4 separate regions of the Homo sapiens genome follow, and all the other regions are reported to be linked to region 4. The links are microRNA targets in miRTarBase. Many come from high-throughput screens and were not tested one by one. Region 4 holds a microRNA gene; each other region holds the end of a gene's coding sequence.

Region 1 (6,056 bases), not on the chromosome of region 4:
TTGACATATTTCAAAGATGTAGACATTAACACACTTTACTCCTAGATACTTCAGCATGCAAATCATTAACAAATATTTCCAGTAGCTTTGAGTTGGGGTAGTTCTAATGTGGTGATTGGAGAGAGGGATGCTGTATTTTGCTGGTGCTGAGATAAAAGTGAACAAGAATTTTTGTCTCTTCTCAATAGAAGTCAGAGTTTGTTTGTTTTTTTTCCTATTTTCTATTCCCTTTTTCCATTTTGCCTGGAAATGGCTTTTATTCCCATCCTCAACCAACAGTAGTGTCCATTTGTTCCACAGTTTTAGATGGCGGAACACTCAGGAATAGTGATGGACACGCAGGGGTCTGAAGCAGAGGATGGCTGCCATGAGAGCCAATTCAGCCCCTCGTTGACCACTCTAACCCTGTGCCTGCTGGGTTCGAAGTCAAGGCTGCATTTGGCAGTAATTGAGACACGAGGCATCTTCTAGCAGCACTGAAGCAATTGGATGGTTCTGGGGCTTAGGTTTCAGGAAAGCAGCTCCCAGTTGGCGTTGAGACTCTTCCCCTCCACTGGAAAGCCCGTGTTGCATTTCACCTTTTCGTGTCTAATGCAACAACCGCTTCACTCTCGAGGGAGAAGCAGAAGCCTTCCCTGTGAGCAGTCTCGTGTATGTGTGTGGTGGGATTGTTGGCTTGATCGGATGGTGTCTTTTGTTTGCTTGTTTTTAATTCTGGCTTCCTAGAGGGCAGTAGGTGAAAGAATGAATTTTTCTTAACTGGTAGTCACTTTATACAGCACTTTGTTGATCAAACTGCTTGGATGTCATCGGTTTTTTATTTCTCATTCCAATGAGGCACTGATATGTTAATTGCTTTGGAGAAGAATGAGTGATACACAGACTGTAATTGGGGGAGACTAAGGCACACATTTGCTTAGCTTCCTAGCTCATGTGGGACTTTGTCAGAAAGAAGACAGGGAAATAACTGAAGATCCCATGTCTTTGAGAGCCACTCTTTTTCATAGGCTCTCTAAGAGTGACGTGGTGCCCTTAATCTAACTGCAGATCCCAAGAAATGTTATGTTCCAGTTCCCAGAAAACAAGTAACTTACACTGGTGCTTCTGCCTCCTTGATGCACATTCTACAAAGACAGCAAAACCATAGATGCACCCCCACCCTTACTAAAGACCTATTCCAGCTAAACAACCCTGGGACAGCCCTGGGGATCTTCATAGCACTGGGCCATGGGACATGGCCAGGATTGAGGACACTAACTCACTAACTGATCCCCAAATCAGTGGTCTGTCTACTTGAGAGCAGCTGCTGTCTGTGTTACCCATCTCTTAGGTGCACAGGCTAGAACAGTAGATTATTTCAGAGGGAGTTGAGTGCCCCTTTGCCCATAACCTACAACCTCTCCTGTGTGCCCCGGTTCCCCCTTGCCCTTGCATCAGTTGCTAGAACATCCTCTAAGTCCAGATACCTCGACAAGGTAAATGCTCCATGACAGATTGGTGATATGTAGACTTTAAGCCCCAAAAGACATCAAGGCATTCAATGCATACCGTTTTGGTTTTTATTTTCTCCTGTCCTTTGCTTTCTGGATTTTCATCTCACGTAAAGCATGTGGGGGTTTTATTTTTATATTTTTGTGTGTGTGTGCAGTGTCTGCCCCAAGCAAGTCTCTTGGGAGGAGGAGGCGGCGGCTGGCTCGAAACAGGTTTACCATTGATTCTGATGCCGTCTCCGCAAGCAGCCCGGAGAAAGAGTCCCAGCAGCCCCCCGGTGGTGGGGACACTGACCGATGGGTAGAGGAGCAGTTTGATCTTGCTCAGTATGAGGAGCAAGATGACATCAAGGAGACAGACATCCTCAGTGACGATGATGAGTTCTGTGAGTCCGTGAAGGGTGCCTCAGTGGACAGAGACCTGCAGGAGCGGCTTCAGGCCACCTCCATCAGTCAGCGGGAAAGAGGCCGGAAAACCCTGGATAGTCACGCGTCCCGCATGGCACAGCTCAAGAAGCAAGCTGCCCTGTCGGGGATCAATGGAGGCCTGGAGAGCGCAAGCGAGGAAGTCATTTGGGTTAGGCGTGAAGACTTTGCCCCCTCCAGGAAACTGAACACTGAGATCTGACTGCGTCACCTGCCCCGTAGAGAATGTGTGTAGATACTTCCTGCCCTAACTCTGCCCACCCTCCTGTACCGTCGACAAGAATGTCCCCTTAGGTCGCGCTCTTGCACACACGGTTTTGGCAGCTGACTTGGTTCTGAAGCCATGTAGCCACCCAACTTTGTCATTTTCAACAACATCAGAAAGAATTGATCAGAATCCCAAATAAGCTTGAGTCCTATCTTCTGTATATTACTAAGGGCTTTTATTTATTCTCAATAAATCAGGGCCTGAACAATTAAAAGAAAAAAGATTCTATAGCACTGGAAAGCAAATCACCCCAGGAGTTAACGGATGTACAACAGATTAATTTAAGGGATAGTAGCACACACACGATCCTTCTATCTGAAATCAGTCTCCTAGCTGGGGAAACCTCTTTCACACACAAAATGAAATGTGTACAGCTTGCCGTGTTCTGACTGTACCCTTCCCTCTTCCATGTCTGAGAATCTCCGTGTATTTTAAGAATGTGTGAGGAGAGGGTGGCGATTCATGTTTCAATGAGCCTCTTTTTTTTTTTCCTTCCTGTTTTGGTCTATGGCTGGTCTTACTCTGTGTCCATGTTCGGAAGCTCTAGTTTTGCATAGAATTATAGAGATGCCAAACTCTTTGAAAAGAGATCCAAATTTATCGCTTGAGAGAAAGAAAAGAAACACTATTTTTTGTATTTTACCTGAGATACAGGGGCACAAATAGATGAGAATTTTACAGTGTTAGTGTATGTATCCCTGAGCCTAAAAAATGAGGATATAACCTTTTACAGAGAGAGTGAGGCGTGGTGGTTTTATATTTATATATGAAAGGCCAGCAAGCTCATGCGAAGGATATACTTTTCTTCCAAAAAGCGGATTTTTTTTTTTTAATGTTTGAATCTATATTTGAGATGGGAGTTTGGTTGGATTAAACATGACACCCCGGTGGGCGGTGTGTGTGTCTGTTGCACATGGCAGGGAGGGGAGCCTCCTTCTCATGGGGTTGCCATGGTGATCATTGGTTTTTCCATCAAAATTGCATCTTCATCCATAGATTACCTTCCCCTTCCCTGACAGTCCATAACCAAACCTTTAAACAGAACAACCTCTTTAAAAACTTCTCTTGTGTTTAACACTTTCTTCATGCCAACGAAACAGGGTAAACATGCTCAAAACATTAACAGTCTAAACAGATATCCAAATACTAAGAAGAAAAACAAGTTATAGCACTTTCAATTTTTTTTTTTTTTTTAAAAAAAGGTTTATAGCTTTTTCTTTTCCCATGTCACAATGTCCACTTCCTAAGAAGGGTTTAAAATACTATGAAAACTTTCTTTTTGGGGAAAATATCTATTTGGTGTTTGACACATCAGTAGGTACTTTAAAGACCTGAATTTTATAGTAGCTTTAGGAGTTATATTTTATAAAAATCAGTTATGACTTTATATTTCCAGACAATAGAGAGTTCAGTACATCATGCTCTTGTGCCTCTGCCTGCTTTTCCTGCGTTCCCACCCTGTATTCCCCCCGCCTTTCGGGTTTCCAGGGCTTCGAGCTTGATCTTTTGAAAGTTTTATTCTATTAAATTTTTGCTATATCTTCTGGTTTTCTGAAAAAGCTTTAGAATGGTTTCTATACCCTTTGTATCACTGCATTTTTCCATATCATCTCCGGTTCGATCGCGTCCAGATGGAAAACGGAAGCAGAGGCTTCTAATCGTCGCATTTACTGGCTCCAGTGCAACACATCCATCTGAAAACACTCGGAAGTCTGGTGCTTGGAGAGGGTGCCATTGTCTCTTGTACATAAGGTCATGACGTGTCTATGTCAAAAGTTCTTATATATTTCTTTTATAAGCTGAAAGAAGGTCTATTTTTATGTTTTTAGGTCTATGAATGGAACGTTGTAAATGCTTGTCAAACAATAAAAATAACGAAAAGTGTCTGGGCGGTTCTATGCCTTTTTGGATGGGAGGATGAGTATGAATTGTTGGCGGGAGAGCGGCCGTGGGAGAAGATTCCTGGGAATGCCATTTATTGAAATAACTCGTGATCATCAGGAGAACGCTGTTGTAGCGCTTGAAGTTTTAACAACAACAAAAGGTGCATTACAGTTGCATGGCATCTTGACCTAACGTTGCCCCTACTGGGCACTGTTTCTTTTCCAGTCTCCTGCCTATCCCGATGGGAGCAGGCTGGGGGGGTTCCTGTGAAAATATTGGGGTGAAGTGCAGAGCTCTGACTGGCCTGACTGAGCTCTTGAATCACTCCACATTTTATCACCGGGGGCCTGCTGCCTGAGTCTTTCACAGAATCACCAAACAAGGTAAATACAGTCTTGGGCTGCCTTTCTCTTCCTGTCAGAGTCCCCAGATCTGAGCCTCTCGAGTCCCTTACAAACCTTACCCATCAATGTTACCCCATCCATCCCTGCCCTCAGTGAAAAGATTGTCTCCTGTCACTAGAAGAGCCTCTCCCTGGCGCATGGGGAGCCCTGTGGTGTAGCTACTTGCTCCTCACAGTGGAGGTCCTGACACCAGCAGCGTCGGTGTCACTGGGAGCTTGTTGGAAGTGCAGAAAACTGGGAGGCAGGAGGAGCACTTGAGGCTAGAAGTTCGAGACCAGCCTGGGCAACATAGTGAGACCCCCATCTCTACGAAAAATAAAATACTTAGCTAGTCGTGGTGGTTCACACCTTTAGTCCCAGCTACTCAGGAGGCTGAGGTGGGAGGTGAGCTCAGGAATTTGAGGCTTGCAGTGAACTGTGATCATACTGTTGCACTCCCGCCTGGGAAACAGAGACCCTGTCTCAGAAAAGAAAAATGCAGAAACTTGGGCCCCACCCAGAGGCACTAAACCAGAACTTCCATCTTAACAGGATCCTCTGATGACTCATCCATGTTCATGTTTGAGTCACATTCGTTTGGTAGCCTCCAAACATTCTGATGTTGAGCAGTGATTTGGAGCACATTCCTCTTTATTTTAAATATATTCAGGCATTACAGCAGCAATATGTACATCTTTAAGACACAAGATGTCTCTCTGTAGCCAGTGCATCCGACTTGGGGGATGACTGAAGCCAGCTTTAACACCTGCTCCATGAAGTTATTCCAGCAGTTTGTACTCTGGTGTAAATGAGATTTAGCAGTTTGGGCTGCTTTCCTCACCAATAGCTGAGCCTGTGTGTGCAGAGGAAATGAGTGCTCAAAGTCAACTATAGAGGAACAATCATGCCTTTCCCCACTAGTTTTCATTTATTTTCAGGCTCATCTCCCTCCCACCAGGCTGGCAGAAAACATCCTCAGTTTTCCTCTCCCTTTCAGTTCTTAAGGTTTGGGGGCGGGGTGCTTCCTTCTGCAAAGATAACTGTAGCAGTGACCAGTGTCCTCATCCATCCACGAGCTCCTTCACGCGTGATGGTGGGCTCTCTAGTGTATCCTTTTGCTCACCCAGGATTCTTCTGCAGCCTGGTCCCCGGTGTTCTGTCTCCTCTCTGGGACGTTGCCAGGATGCCTCCCCCAAGTTCTGGTCCCTCCCCTTCCACAGAGCTCTCCTGACTGTATCCCCAGCCAGGGGCTATTGCCTTTTTTTTTTTTTTTTTTTGAGAGGGAGTCTCACACTGTCACCCAGGGTGGAGTGCAGTGGCGTGATCTCGGCTCACTGCAACCTCCGCCTCCCAGGTTCAAGGGATTCTCCTGCCTCAGCCTCCCGAGTAGATGGGATTATAGTCGCCCGCCACCACGCCTGGCTAATTTTTTTGTATTTTTAGTAGAGACAAGGTTTCACTATGTTGGTCAGGCTGGTCTCGAATGCCTGACCTCGTGATCCACCCACCTCAGCCTCCCGAAGTGCTGGGATTACAGGCATGAGCCATCGTGCCCTGCTGGCTATTGCCTTTTCTGTGTGTGTGTGGTTATGGGGATGAGGACAG
Region 2 (6,056 bases), not on the chromosome of region 4:
GAATGTTCCTTAGGAGGAAGCAGCAACCGTGATCAGGATGAATGAGAAATCATCCCAATAAACACGCTTTGTGTACATTTTCCTTAAAAAAAAAAAAAAAAAAAAAGACAGTAACTACCACAGACTGGCAGGGAAGGAGTGGGAAAATTAATACTCTGACATTTTTTTTTCTGCTCTGATTTTCTACCACTGGCCAAACACAATCAGAAGCCAGAGGATAAAGCAAGCCCAGATGAAGTGGACCGTAGAGATCAGTCCCTAAGGACACACTGCAGGAGAATGTCAGAGAGTGGTTCTGGAGAGGCAAATTGGATCTGGGCTTTCCAAAACAGACCATGTTTGCTAAAGCCATAATTGGTTTCCGCAGCTTGCCACAAAGAAACCGAACTGATACAACCCACGTTACAGACAAGAAAATGAAGTTCAAAGAGATTAGGTTACTTTTTGCAGGTCACATGGCTAATATATGTAGAACTCTAAAACAATTTAAGTAGAAGAAATTTAAAAGATCACAGAATCAAATGTTATTTTCCCTGGAGTTAGTAACTGCCCTTTTTATTGCTTAATTTGCTTTGTATGTTTTTTTCTCTTATTGTAAAATACAACATAAAACTCACCATTTTAACCATTTTAAAATGAGCAATTGAGTAGCATTTAGTATATTTGTAGAGTTGTGCAATGACCACCACTATCTAACAGAATCCTATAGAGCCACAGCAGAGGCGACACCTGACAGGAGATGTAGTCGCAGAAAAGGGAATAAGCTTGCCCTTCCGTCTGCACAGGGAAATGGCATTCTATTTATCTATATACACACACACATATACCAATTACTGAATCAGGATACACAGCTAAAAACAGATCCTGTTATATGTAAGAATGCAGTGTACTATAAAAGAGGTATCAGTGTGAAAAGGACAACCCAATTGTCTAATTGGAGTTGAGGAATTATTTTTATTTTTAAAAGGGAAATTAACGTAGACAAATCGTAACATGTACCCCAAATCCAAATGGATTAAAGACAAAAATGTCAATAAAACATTTGTGGACCTTTCCAATAGAAAAAAAAAAAGAGCAAACTCTAACTGCCTACAACATTTTAAATCTAGAATCCTATATTCAATCAATATGGGGATAAAGTTCTTCCCCTTGGATAGGAGAGGTTTCGTTTGGTTTTCTTTTAATTTCCTCCAAAACAATCATTGGCAGGAAGCTTCTGCAGGATAAGCTCCAGGTGTAGAAAAAAAAAAAAAAAAAAAAGTTTGTTGGAGACCATAGGAATTTCATAAAAATATTGAAACTGAAAACACTTAAAAAGCATTCCAAATCAGCTTTCCAATCTGCAACCTTTGTTAGAATGAAGGCAACAAGAAAATGGTCTGAAAGTGCCAGGGAAGAGAAGAGGAAGGACACAGAGCCCTCTTGGTCCCTTCAGCATTTTCAGGAGACAGAATGCCACAGAGAATTTTCCACAGAGCTGGGCATGGTGGCACACTCCTGTAATCCCAACAACTCAAGAGGCTGAGGCAGGAGGATCGCTTGAGGCCACAAGTTCAAGACGAGCATGAGCAATGTAGTATGACCCAATCTTTACAAAAAAAAATAATAATCAGCTGGGCACAGTGGCATGCACCTGTAGTCCCAGCTACTGGGGAGCATGAGGTGGAAGGATAGATTGAGCCCAGGAGTTGGAGGCTGCAGTGAGCCACTATTGCACCACTGCACTCCAGTGTGGGCAAAACTGAGACACCAAAAAAAAAGAAGTGTTCTGTGGTTGCAGAGCAAGAGAGAGAGGAGGCTTAACAGATTCCCACCCTGAAAGAGAAAGTAGGAAGCAGAGTACATAATAGCACTCAATTTCCTTTGAGAAAACTGCCTTCCCTCCATTGTGAGAAGTCTTCACCTGGAGGGCCTGCCTCCTCACTGCTGCAGCCAGGAGCCAGGTCTTCACCCACTTCCCAGGGAGTCACAAGAGCCTGGCTGCTAGGCTCAGCGAATGGATGCTCTCTCCAAGTACAGCAAGATCCTAAGCAAGTTAGGCTTTAGTGCCGTGGCAGAAGCAAGCATGCTGAACACAATTCCCCGCATCCACAATGGAGGCTGGGCATTGCCAGCAGTAGCGGTTGGAACACAGGATTTAGGAGGAGGCAGCAGTTATGAAATGCTCAAGATAACCAGTAATGAGCAGCACAAGACCCCTTGCACCTTCAAATATAAGACCAGTAATAACACTTACAAATGTACATTTTAACTTGGATAGTTAAAAATACTAACAAGTGATTTATATCTGCTAAATCAGCAAAAAAGAACAAAGAGGAACAAATTGAAGGCATATGTTTTAATGAACATTATAACCAAAAAAAATTGAGTCCTTGTGCTAGAAACATGTAGAAGAAAAATTATAAATTTGTTTCAAAGAAAGCTTTCAGAATCAGTTTTACCTAAAATCTATAGCTAAGATTATCACTCCCACATACCCTCACCCATGATTTCTTCCTGCCAACCTTCTCTCAATAGCTATATCAGTATTTGGCTTGATTCATGTTCAATATTGACAACAGCATGTCTAGTTAAATACTGCTCGCAGCTGGCCATGGGACATATTATGAATACCTTTGCTTCCCAGATACATTTATAATTGTTTAGTTTTTCATTTGCTTACTTCTCTGGGCCATAATTCAACCCCAAATTATTTGCCATTTGTCCAGATCTCTCCACATCCTGATGGATCAGGTTGTCTACAAATGTCATCTTGTTCAAAGGCCTCTGCTCCATTCTAACCTGGCAGGAGTAGAGGGGTGCCATGCAGAAGGGGAGCAGAGAATGCCAGGAAGGCAGGAGAACAGGGGCCTCTGGGCTGAACCAGCCCAAAGGCTCCTGTGCAGCTTCCCAGTGAGAAAAGGTGAGACTGTCAGCAAAGAGAAAGTGAACTTTGCCCAGCTCTCTATGACCACATGCTGCCACACACACTGAGGATTGAGAACAGATCCAAGGGCAACCGCAGACGCCTAAAGCTAAAGAAGGTGGTCTAAGGTTGTATAAAAAAATCCAGATGCACTTTTTTTTTTTTTTTTTTTTGTAGACAGGATCTCACTGTTGCCCAGGCAGTGGCACAATCTAGGCTCACTGCAACCTCTGCCTCCTGGGTTCACACAATTCTCCTGCCTCAGCCTCCCTAATAGCTGGGATTACAGGTGCCTGCCACCACACTGGGCTAATTTTTGTATTTTTTGGTAAAGACGGGGTTTCACGATATCGGCCAGGCTGGTCTCAAACTCCTAGCCTCTACTGATCCACCCGCCTCGGCCTCTCAAAGTGCTGGGATTATAGGCGTAAGCCACCTTGCCCAGCCTCCAGACGCATTTTCTATACAACTCTGCACGGGCAATTTTGGCCTCAGAGTCCTCCAGCAGGTGGCAGACTCCAGCACAGGAACAAAATCTGTCTACCCCAGAAATCTCTTCCAAGTTGACACAGCCTTCATAAGCAAGAGCCATAACTGTGATGAATGCCTGTTGTCATTTTAAGCACTGCAAGTTATTCCACATGAATACTGAACTGTGGTCCAAGCATACAGGGGAATGCATCCCCCTTTCAATCACACGACATCCAACACATGCCATAGGTGGGTAATGTCAAGCAATATTCACCCCCCGCCCCTGAATCCTTCACTTGGTCAGGAGACACCCTGTATCTACTGCAAAGACTTCTGTTTTCTCCTCGGTTCTGTATTTTCCCAAATTCCTACCCTGGTACGTACTATTTTTTTCTAATTACAAAATAATCATTAACTTTTAAAAAGCCATGTACAACTAGTTGACATAATAAAAATCCACCTAACTCATCTTTTAGTAACTATGGCTATGTTGTAACAATTTTATTTTGATTTTTAAAAAAGGAATCTCTTGATTTAATCAGGGCTTTGGGGTCATAGGGGGATTAGTCACTGTCACAGTCATAATAATGCATTTATTCAGGGAAAACTTTAATTTTCTTTGTCTTCTCCAAAAACAGCTGCTGGAACACCTCAAATTAAGGGATGTTCATCTAAAACACCTTTACTGAAACTTGATTCCTTGGGCCAGAGGAAGGTCTTTACTGTAGTTGATAGTACTAGTGGGAAAAAATAACAGAATTAATGACAGTACATACATAACAGAAGATTTTCATGCCCACTTTTAAAATGTAGCAGATCTGTATATATTAACAAGGCAAGATCTCCAAGTTACAACTTTTTAAGACAAACCTTTAAGATAAAAGACAATGTTAGTATGGATCCCGTTTTATTTAAAAGAAAAAAGACAGAAACATAAAAATCTGGAAAGACATACCATACATGGTTTTTTTTGTTGGTGGTGGTTTTTGTTTGTTTGTTTGTTTTGTTTTGAGACAGGGTCTCACTCTGTCACCCAGACTGGAGTGCAATGGCACAATCTCAGCTCACTGCAACCTCCGCCTCCCAGGCTCAAGCGATTCTCCTGCCTCAGCCTCCTGATTAGCTGTGCACCACCACGCCTGGCTAATTTTTGTATTTTTAGTAGAGACGGGGTTTCACCATGTTGGCCAGGCTGGTCTTGAACTCCTGACCTCAAATGATCCACCTGCCTCAGCCTCCTGAACTGCTTGGATTACAGGCATGAGCCACTGCAGGCGTGGATCACCTGAGGTCAGGAGTTCAAGACCAGCCTGGCCAACATGGTGAAACCCGGTCTCTACTAAAAATGCAAAAATTAGCCTGGCATGGTGGTGCAGGCCTGTGATGACAGCTACTTGGGAGGCTGAGGCAGGAGAATCGCTGGAATCTGGGAGGCGGAGGCTGAGGCTGCAGTGAGCTGAGATCAGGCCACTGCACTCCAGCCTGGGTGACAGAGCAAGACTCCATCTCAAAAAAAAAAAAAAGTGTGCCCTCAAAAGTGCAAGAAACAGCCCAGCATGGTGGCTCATGCCTGTAATCCCAGGACTTTGAGAGGCCGAGGCAGGCAGATCACCTGAGGTCAGGAGTTCAACAACAGCCTGGCCAACACGGTGAAACCCAATCTCTACTAAAAATACAAAAATTAGCCGGGTGCTGTGGCTCACGCCTGTAATCTCAGCACTTTGGGAGGCCAAGGCGGGTGGATCACCTGAGGTCGGGAGTTCGAGACCAGCCTGACCAACATGGAGAAACCCCAACTCTACTAAAAATACAGAAACCACGCACGAGACCATTTCATTGTTGGGTGCTGGGCACTAGCTGAAGCTAGACAAGAAGGCTAGAAAAATAGCACCAAATAGATACTTAGAGGAGACAGCTGTGGAATGCTGGAAAAATCAAATCAAATGACACTGCACAAAGACAGCACAGACAGTAGGAAAGTGTAAAAGCCCATTCCCAAGGGTTTTAAGCCCAAACCTATCTTCCCAAAGCCTTTTCTTACCAAGTAGACCTTCTCATGTACTGTTTCCAGGCATCACTGCCAGACTCCCTGCCACCACCAGTGTGCTTTTCTCCTCCTAGAGAAATAAAAAATAATATCATATCTTCTGAGCAGTTTCCATGTGGGCTCATAGTTGGTATCAATGAAAAGAAGATACCAAAAGGACACCAGAACAACCTGATTATTTACTTTACATTTAGCCCACAATATCTCCCCTGCAAACAAATCAAAGACAGAGACCAAGAGACCAAAACAAACAGAAAAAAGGAATTAAGAGGGAAAATAAAATATAAGGAATTAAGAAGAAATGGAAACAGAAAGAAACGGTAAAAAAAAAAAAAAATCCCATTAGCTGGGCGTGGTGGTGCATGCCTGTAACCCCACCGTGCCCAGCCCACACATGTTATTCATAGTTTTTCTTTTGAGCAGGGCACAAGAATATGGGAGCTGTAACTGTCTTCTTTATCTCTCTCAATAACTTGTATTAAATTATCAGGGAAAACACAAATATTCCCATTTGATAGAAATACATTAAGAAAATATAACAATTTTGAAATAAAAGCTTCTCTATTAACTACTCACCTGGTCTTTCTCATGAGAGGGAAAGAATCTCCATTAAATGGGTTCCAGAAAAATCAC
Region 3 (3,000 bases), not on the chromosome of region 4:
CTCCTTCAGCCTGGACCTCGGTTTCCTCACCTGTATAGTAGAGATATGGGAGCACCCAGCGCAGGATCACTGTGAACATAAATCAGTTAATGGAGGAAGCAGGTAGAGTGGTGCTGGGTGCATACCAAGCACTCCGTCAGTGTTTCCTGTTATTCGATGATTAGGAGGCAGCTTAAACTAGAGGGAGTTGAGCTGAATCAGGATGTTTGTCCCAGGTAGCTGGGAATCTGCCTAGCCCAGTGCCCAGTTTATTTAGGTGCTCTCTCAGTGTTCCCTGATTGTTTTTTCCTTTGTCATCTTATCTACAGGATGTGACTGGGAAGCTCTGGTTTCAGTGTCATGTGTCTATTCTTTATTTCCAGGCAAAGGAAACCAACAATAAGAAGAAAGAATTTGAGGAAACTGCGGAGAAAGTGCGCCGTGCCATCGAGCAGCTGGCTGCCATGGATTGAGGCCTCTGGCCGGAGCTGCCTGGTCCCAGAGTGGCTGCACCACTTCCAGGGTTTATTCCCTGGTGCCACCAGCCTTCCTGTGGGCCCCTTAGCAATGTCTTAGGAAAGGAGATCAACATTTTCAAATTAGATGTTTCAACTGTGCTCTTGTTTTGTCTTGAAAGTGGCACCAGAGGTGCTTCTGCCTGTGCAGCGGGTGCTGCTGGTAACAGTGGCTGCTTCTCTCTCTCTCTCTCTTTTTTGGGGGCTCATTTTTGCTGTTTTGATTCCCGGGCTTACCAGGTGAGAAGTGAGGGAGGAAGAAGGCAGTGTCCCTTTTGCTAGAGCTGACAGCTTTGTTCGCGTGGGCAGAGCCTTCCACAGTGAATGTGTCTGGACCTCATGTTGTTGAGGCTGTCACAGTCCTGAGTGTGGACTTGGCAGGTGCCTGTTGAATCTGAGCTGCAGGTTCCTTATCTGTCACACCTGTGCCTCCTCAGAGGACAGTTTTTTTGTTGTTGTGTTTTTTTGTTTTTTTTTTTTTGGTAGATGCATGACTTGTGTGTGATGAGAGAATGGAGACAGAGTCCCTGGCTCCTCTACTGTTTAACAACATGGCTTTCTTATTTTGTTTGAATTGTTAATTCACAGAATAGCACAAACTACAATTAAAACTAAGCACAAAGCCATTCTAAGTCATTGGGGAAACGGGGTGAACTTCAGGTGGATGAGGAGACAGAATAGAGTGATAGGAAGCGTCTGGCAGATACTCCTTTTGCCACTGCTGTGTGATTAGACAGGCCCAGTGAGCCGCGGGGCACATGCTGGCCGCTCCTCCCTCAGAAAAAGGCAGTGGCCTAAATCCTTTTTAAATGACTTGGCTCGATGCTGTGGGGGACTGGCTGGGCTGCTGCAGGCCGTGTGTCTGTCAGCCCAACCTTCACATCTGTCACGTTCTCCACACGGGGGAGAGACGCAGTCCGCCCAGGTCCCCGCTTTCTTTGGAGGCAGCAGCTCCCGCAGGGCTGAAGTCTGGCGTAAGATGATGGATTTGATTCGCCCTCCTCCCTGTCATAGAGCTGCAGGGTGGATTGTTACAGCTTCGCTGGAAACCTCTGGAGGTCATCTCGGCTGTTCCTGAGAAATAAAAAGCCTGTCATTTCAAACACTGCTGTGGACCCTACTGGGTTTTTAAAATATTGTCAGTTTTTCATCGTCGTCCCTAGCCTGCCAACAGCCATCTGCCCAGACAGCCGCAGTGAGGATGAGCGTCCTGGCAGAGACGCAGTTGTCTCTGGGCGCTTGCCAGAGCCACGAACCCCAGACCTGTTTGTATCATCCGGGCTCCTTCCGGGCAGAAACAACTGAAAATGCACTTCAGACCCACTTATTTCTGCCACATCTGAGTCGGCCTGAGATAGACTTTTCCCTCTAAACTGGGAGAATATCACAGTGGTTTTTGTTAGCAGAAAATGCACTCCAGCCTCTGTACTCATCTAAGCTGCTTATTTTTGATATTTGTGTCAGTCTGTAAATGGATACTTCACTTTAATAACTGTTGCTTAGTAATTGGCTTTGTAGAGAAGCTGGAAAAAAATGGTTTTGTCTTCAACTCCTTTGCATGCCAGGCGGTGATGTGGATCTCGGCTTCTGTGAGCCTGTGCTGTGGGCAGGGCTGAGCTGGAGCCGCCCCTCTCAGCCCGCCTGCCACGGCCTTTCCTTAAAGGCCATCCTTAAAACCAGACCCTCATGGCTACCAGCACCTGAAAGCTTCCTCGACATCTGTTAATAAAGCCGTAGGCCCTTGTCTAAGTGCAACCGCCTAGACTTTCTTTCAGATACATGTCCACATGTCCATTTTTCAGGTTCTCTAAGTTGGAGTGGAGTCTGGGAAGGGTTGTGAATGAGGCTTCTGGGCTATGGGTGAGGTTCCAATGGCAGGTTAGAGCCCCTCGGGCCAACTGCCATCCTGGAAAGTAGAGACAGCAGTGCCCGCTGCCCAGAAGAGACCAGCAAGCCAAACTGGAGCCCCCATTGCAGGCTGTCGCCATGTGGAAAGAGTAACTCACAATTGCCAATAAAGTCTCATGTGGTTTTATCTACTTTTTTTTTCTTTTTCTTTTTTTTTGAGACAAGGCCTTGCCCTCCCAGGCTGGAGTGCAGTGGAATGACCACAGCTCACCGCAACCTCAAATTCTTGCGTTCAAGTGAACCTCCCACTTTAGCCTCCCAAGTAGCTGGGACTACAGGCGCACGCCATCACACCCGGCTAATTGAAAAATTTTTTTTTTTGTTTAGATGGAATCTCACTTTGTTGCCCAGGCTGGTCTCAAACTCCTGGGCTCAAGTGATCATCCTGCTTCAGCGTCCGACTTGTTGGTATTATAGGCGTGAGCCACTGGGCCTGACCTAGCTACCATTTTTTAATGCAGAAATGAAGACTTGTAGAAATGAAATAACTTGTCCAGGATAGTCGAATAAGTAACTTTTAGAGCTGGGATTTGAACCCAGGCAATCTGGCTCCAGAGCTGGGCCCTCACTGCTGAAGGACACTGTCAGCTTGGGAGGG
Region 4 (5,795 bases):
AGGGCTGGGGTTGCCTGCAGAACCAAGGCAGGCCAGGAGGGCACAGGGGGGAATCTGGGCCAAGATTGTGGCCTGGGTCAACAGGAGGGGCGAGGATGGGCACTTGGGTGGGGGAGGTGTGGGCCCAGCTGTATCAGCCCCTCCCCACCAGGGGCTCTCGGTGCTGGGCCAGGCATGAACAAGCCCACCCCACATGCCCAGGGCGGGATCACTGGGCCCAGCCTACGGCAGCTGCTAGACGAGGGCCTGAGGCCTCCCAGGAGAATGGGTGCACTTTTGGGATGGCAGTCTGTCAGAGGAATTACGGGTGCCCTGGAAACTGTCCTGAGGGAGGACGGAAGGACAGGCACGTCCAGACTTTGGTCAAGGCACTTAAGGCACGGAGGTGGCCTCAGGAGCCAGGACTTGGCAGTGCTCTGAGCTGCTGACCTGGGGCCTTGGTGGCTGCCCCGTGGGGACCTCTCCACCGGGCCTGGGTCCCGGTGTTCAGCCCGCCTGGCTCAAAGGCAGCACGAGAGGGCAGAGAACGGGCTGGGCCTGGGATCCTGAGCCCAGGGTACAGCACGGAGCCAACTGAGGACTCTGGAGGCACCGGGAGGCGTGAGCAGACAAGTCTCATGACCTGGAACAGCTCGTGGCCAGGGGCCTCCACACTGTCCCGCAGCAGACGCGCCCCAGAGCCCAGTCCCTGGGCTTCCAGAATGAAAGGGGCCAGTTCCAAGTTCATGGTCAGAACAGCTTTATTGAATCTAGCTCCCAGATGCCCACCCAGCTTCGGCTCAGGCCCCCTGCAGGTCACTGAGGTGGGGGGCAGCCCTCCCGTGGGGTCGTGTCACTGAGGTAGGGGGCGGCCCTCCCATGGGGTCGTGTCACTGGGCTCCTCAGGGAAGGCAGTAGGTTGTATAGTTATCTTCCGAGGGGCAACATCACTGCCCTGAAACCACACAACCTACTACCTCACCCCGCCAGGCCCGGCCTTGCACTGCGGGAGGGCCCGCCGCCCCCCGCCCAGCACCAGCCCCTGCCTGGCGGTCCTCAGTCACCAGAGCAGGAGGGCTGGGCAGGCGCAGGGCAGGAGGGACAGGGGAGATGGCACCCCAGGAAGGGGCAGCTGCTGCTGGCTGGTCTTGGGAAGTCCCTGGCTCTCTGGGCCTCAGTTTCCCCAGGTACAGAGGAGCCACTGTCTGCCTTCAGATTGTGCCATGTGGGACCCAGTGTATGCAGAGCTGTTCCTCTCACTTCCTGCTCAGGAAAGGTGCCTTGGCCTCCCTTCCTCCACAGGCAGAGGCCCTGCCACTGAGCTGGCCAGGCTGGGGCACGTGCTGGGAACCTGGGGTGATGGGCAACGCCAATACTCGCAGCCCTGTGACCTCCAAACGTCTCGGCCACCCCTGGCCCCACGGTGCCTTCTCCTGGTGCTCAGTGGAGGGTACGGCTCAGGGCCACCCATGAGCCTGGGCCTGATGGCGGGGGGAGTGTTGGGGAGTGTTGGGAGACAGAGGTCAGACAAACAGCTGCGTGGATCGCCTCTCTCAGTGCGGCTGGGGCAGAGGGTGGGGTCGGCTCAGCTCTCCTCTGCCCTCGATGCTCCACACTGCATCTCCTTCCATCCTCATTTGCCTCCATTTTACAGAGGAGGAAACTGAGACCCAGAGAGATCAGGGGCCTGTCCAAGGTCACACAGCAAGTGGCACCTAGGCCTGTCAGACTTCTCAGTGTAGGCGGCCCCTGCCCCCGACTGCTGCCAAGGCTGCCCCCAAACCTGGCCCTGCCCGCTCCCAGCCAGGGTTCCAGACGCTCTGTCCACCGCAGATATTACAGCCACTTCAGGAAAGACAGTAGATTGTATAGTTATCCCATAGCAGGGCAGAGCCCCAAACTATACAACCTACTACCTCACCCCAAAGGGCAGTCGGTCTTGGTGCCGATGGGACTCCGTGGCTTCCAGAGGCACCTCCTGGGGACGCGGGAGGAAAGAGGGCTGAGGAGAACAGGGGCTCGAGGCTCGGCAGGCCACACGCACCAAGGGCACAGGGATTCTGGCGGGCAGGCGCGGTGGGCGCAGGGGGCTGGGACGCCGAAACCCTGGGAGTGGGGACATTGTGGCCAGCACCAGCAGGGACGGGAGCCTGCAGGAAACCACCAACCAGAGAGGGACGAGGAAGAGAGAAAGGAGGAGGGAGGGAAAGCCCTGGCGGCATTTTGCGACGCTGTCACAGGCAGCCGGCTCCCTCTCATCTGGACAGGAGTGGCCATAATGTCCCCAAGGAACTCTGCACTGGAGACCCTAGGAGGAGGGCTGTCATCTGTCGAAGGCCAGCAAGACACAGGCATGCGAGTGCCCACCCTGCTCGGCCCCCTCCCTCCCCGCACAGCGCCACCAGAAGCAGCACTCGTGGCCCCCAGGCTGGCTGAGTAGCGGCTTCACGGGCGTGCCGTCTCCTCCCACTGGGCAGGCAGGCATCCCTCCCCAGGGGCCCTGGTTCTGGCCCTGCTGTGCAGGCTGGCCTGAGCTGACCGCACTGCAGGAGGTGGCGGGAAGGTTCTTTCCTTCCTTGAGGGAAGTGGCCTCTAGGGGAGAGCAGCTGGGGGGGTAGTCACAGACCCTCAGGTCCACCCAGGGTCCAGTGCCTGTCCCTGCGGGTGCTGGCACACTCAGTGCCCTAGCTTGGGACGCACAGGGCTGGGACAGAGTGTAGCATGAGGATGACACTGAGAGGGCCTCGGGGCTCCCCTAGCAGGGGAACGTGGCGAGAGACGGGCCTCCCTAAGCCCCGCCTATCCTGGGCCTGGTGCAGGGTCAGCCTCAACAAATGCTAATTGTGGCTACCACCTTCCTGGGGAAAAGCTGAGGGGGCAGATACGACTGTCAACCCCTCTTAAACAGGTGAGGAGACCGAGGCCCAGAGAGGCAACGTGACCTGGATGTCACACAGCCAAGGGGGCAGCAGAGTGAGGTCCAAATGTCCTGCTCCCTGCCAAGCTTTTTTTTTTTTTTTTTTTTTTTTTTTTGAGATGGAGTCTCACTCTGTCCCCCAGGCTGGAGTGCAGTGGCGCGATCTCGGCTCACTGCAAGCTCCGCCTCCTGGGTTCACGCCATTCTCCTGCCTCAGCCTCCCGAGTAGCTGGGACTACAGGCGCCCGCCACTACGCCCGGCTGATTTTTTGTATTTTTAGTAGACAGGGGGTTTCACCGTGTTAGCCAGGATGGTGTTGATCTCCTGACCTCGTGATCCGCCCGCCTCAGCCTCCCAAAGTGCTGGGATTACAGGCATGAGCCACTGCGCCCGGCCTGCTTCCTGCCAAGTTAAACGGCATGCTAGCTCTCAGCTCCCCATGCCCAAGTGGACTTGAAAGGTCTACCCCAGCCCTCCTTCCACAGCCCATCCTGAGCAGGCTGCCTACTCCAGGCAGGCCCCAGGCTGGGCTGGACCATTTAATCCTCACAGCCCTGGTAAGGCTGAGATCACGGATCCCACTTCATAGTGGAGAAACTGAGGCTCAGGGGGTGCTGAATCTCTAGCTCTAGGTGTCTTTGCTCTCAGAAGTTGGTCGGGGAGGGGGTCTGCTTGCTCTCTGGGCACGTGTCCTACTCCCTCCCGAGGGGCACTGGAGCAAATCCCAGGTCCTTAGCCAGCAAGGAGACCGCTGAGGCTCACACCTGGTGCCGCCCACCCAGAACTGGAGACTGAGATGCTGACTCACCCAGGAGTGGGGACCAGGAGGGCCCCGATGCAGCCCGACCCTCCTCTGTCCCAGCATCATCTCGCCTGGGGTCGCGAAGACCCCGTGTTCCCTCAAGGCCTCAGAACAAAAGCGGTATGAGAGGGTCTGGGGGTCCTGCTCCCCTGCTCCAATTCTGGGTCCCCTGGCTGGTGGGCAGGACCAAGATGTCCCTAAGGACTGTCCGGGCAGAGCCAGCCAGGGTGGGGTGAGGGCTGAAGGGACAGTGGCTGAGGGTCTCCTTGGACCCTCCCAGCTGTGGTGAGTGGCCGGAGGGGGAAGATCAAGGCCATCCCAGCTCCTCTGAGCTGAGGCTGACTCAGGCTGTCGCACACCTCATGATCAGCTCCCAGTCAGGTGGTCCACCCTGAGTGTCCCTGCGTCTGCCCCCATCTGCACCCCCGGGAGGTGCCTTGGGGGAGGCTGTGGGGTGGGTTGCACCCTAAGCACGCACTCTGGGCTCCTGACTTAATCTCTGAGACCCCCACCCCCTCAGGCTGGACTGGCCACCTGGGCTGGCTGGGTCCCCTCACACCTACTGGGTTCTGACTCATGGTCCCAGCAGGCTAAAAAGGGGGTGGGGCAGGACAGCCCAGTGGGCGGAGCTGTGAGAATCCAGGCCGGCCTCTGGGCTATGCTCTGGGCAGGTCTCATGCCCTCGTGAGCCGTGGTCTCCCCACTGAGGCAAGGGGTCAGCTGCCAGGGCCCCCGTCATCAGCCATCGGAGCTGGAGTGCAGGTGGGGACCACCATACTGATTCCAATGGCCCCAGCCTGGCCCCCACAGGTCCCCCAGGCCAGGACTTCAGCCTCCTAGAGCCTACAGTGCTCACCATGGGGGGACCCAGCCCACAGGTCGGGCTCTATAACGTGTGGCAGAGACAGAATGGGAGACAGGCCCCTAGTCCACCCTGGTCGTCACCACAAGTGCCCTCCCCCTGGGCCCCCAGCCCCACCTGGGAGAAGCAGATGTGACTCAGTTTCCCTCATTCGGCCTTTCTCGTTCTGGGCTAGACTTACCCAGGTGGCATCTTGAGTCATCCTGGGCGATGGCAGGTGGCCTCGGGGCATGAGGGCTGCACTCCAGGATGCCCGGTGGCTAGGTGACAGGAGAGGCCAGCGCAGGAGCTTCTGTCCCCAGGGAGTGCTCGAGGCAGGCTGGGCCCTGCAGACAGGCGGTGCACACAACAGAGCCCAGGGCCAGAGAGTGAGTCTTCAGGGTGTGGAGGTGAGGCTGAGCCTCTTCCACTCAGACGCCCTGCAATGAACCACGGCTCCTTCAGGCCCTGTCCAGCCTGAGGGGTGCACCACCAGGGTCAAAGATCACCATGCCCCAAGTGCACAGTGGGCAGATGAGGTGGGCCAACGGGGGGAGCTTGCTGGAAGAGTGGCGGGAAGACAAGAAGAGACATGGCTTCAGGGGAGGCCACAGCCTGGGCGAAGGTTTGGCTGTGAGACCATCAAGTCCCCACCTAAGGACCTCTGTGCCTGAGGGTGGGGCCTGGAGAGGACCGGGAGTGGCCTGGCTCTGAGATAGCCCTCCCTCCCTATCAGACCTCCCACGGCTCCTCCTACCTCCAGAGCCAGGATGGCAGGAGGCCCAGCTCACTGTGAGGAAGGCCAGCCCCAGGCAGGGGCTCCAGGTCAGCGCCACTTCTTGACCTGTTGGGTTTTAAAAACAAAAGTGACAAGTGTCAGCTCTGGAAGAGACGTGGCCTTACCCAGCTCTGAACCCCTTTGTGACCTTGGGCCTTGCCCAGCCGTCCCGCACCAGAACCGACACTCCAGCCTGGCCCGTCTCTCGCCTAGTGGCTCACCCACCCCTGTAAGGGCCTGGATGGAATGTGGAATGGCCTCCGTGGCCAGCCCTGTGTTGGACAATGCCAGGTCAGAGGGGACCAAGACCCAAGCCTGTCCTTGAGTGGTCAGTGGTCATGTCCCCCTGCTGGGAAGCCTGTGCCCTGCCAGGCTGGTGCCTGGATGCTCTAGGGCCCAGAGGAGGGCAGCAGGATGCACAGGGGGGACAGCCTGGTGCTGCTTTCCCGGGTGCCTGGCCTGTCAGCAGGTGGCTGG

Evidence for each region. The annotated mature microRNA hsa-let-7b-5p reads UGAGGUAGUAGGUUGUGUGGUU and lies in region 4 at 939-960, opposite strand. An mRNA with a match to its seed (bases 2 to 7 or 8) in the 3' UTR can be bound and repressed. Matches are read on the target gene's strand: a 7mer-m8 pairs with bases 2 to 8, a 7mer-A1 pairs with bases 2 to 7 and ends in A, and an 8mer does both.
Region 1: miRTarBase lists TIAM1 as a target of hsa-let-7b-5p. The part of its 3' UTR that is shown has no 7-base or 8-base seed match.
Region 2: miRTarBase lists ALDH7A1 as a target of hsa-let-7b-5p. The part of its 3' UTR that is shown has no 7-base or 8-base seed match.
Region 3: miRTarBase lists BIRC5 as a target of hsa-let-7b-5p. The part of its 3' UTR that is shown has no 7-base or 8-base seed match.

What each region holds. Positions count from the first base shown.
Region 1 is chr21:31,116,430-31,122,485 of GRCh38, reverse strand. TIAM1 (TIAM Rac1 associated GEF 1) reads left to right here. Exons shown (of 28, transcript NM_001353694.2): 28 at 1,649-4,068. The coding sequence ends at 2,118. Among named protein-coding and RNA genes, the nearest start is that of KRTAP19-8, 81 kb to the right of the region's middle.
Region 2 is chr5:126,540,907-126,546,962 of GRCh38, forward strand. ALDH7A1 (aldehyde dehydrogenase 7 family member A1) reads right to left here. Exons shown (of 18, transcript NM_001182.5): 17 at 5,418-5,493; 18 at 935-4,113. The coding sequence ends at 4,059. Among named protein-coding and RNA genes, the nearest start is that of ALDH7A1, 51 kb to the right of the region's middle. RefSeq lists enhancers at 2,831-3,125, 3,492-3,541.
Region 3 is chr17:78,223,103-78,226,102 of GRCh38, forward strand. BIRC5 (baculoviral IAP repeat containing 5) reads left to right here. Exons shown (of 4, transcript NM_001168.3): 4 at 363-2,533. The coding sequence ends at 452. Among named protein-coding and RNA genes, the nearest start is that of TMEM235, 7.0 kb to the right of the region's middle.
Region 4 is chr22:46,108,856-46,114,650 of GRCh38, reverse strand. It overlaps MIRLET7B (microRNA let-7b), which reads right to left and starts at 965; the gene lies at 883-965. LOC124905135 (collagen alpha-1(III) chain-like) reads right to left here. Exons shown (of 2, transcript XM_047441696.1): 2 at 723-5,795. MIRLET7BHG (MIRLET7B host gene) reads right to left here. Exons shown (of 5, transcript NR_110479.1): 4 at 5,298-5,384; 5 at 723-4,887. MIRLET7A3 (microRNA let-7a-3) reads right to left here and starts at 1,902; the gene lies at 1,829-1,902. It also overlaps MIR4763. RefSeq lists an enhancer at 3,341-3,874.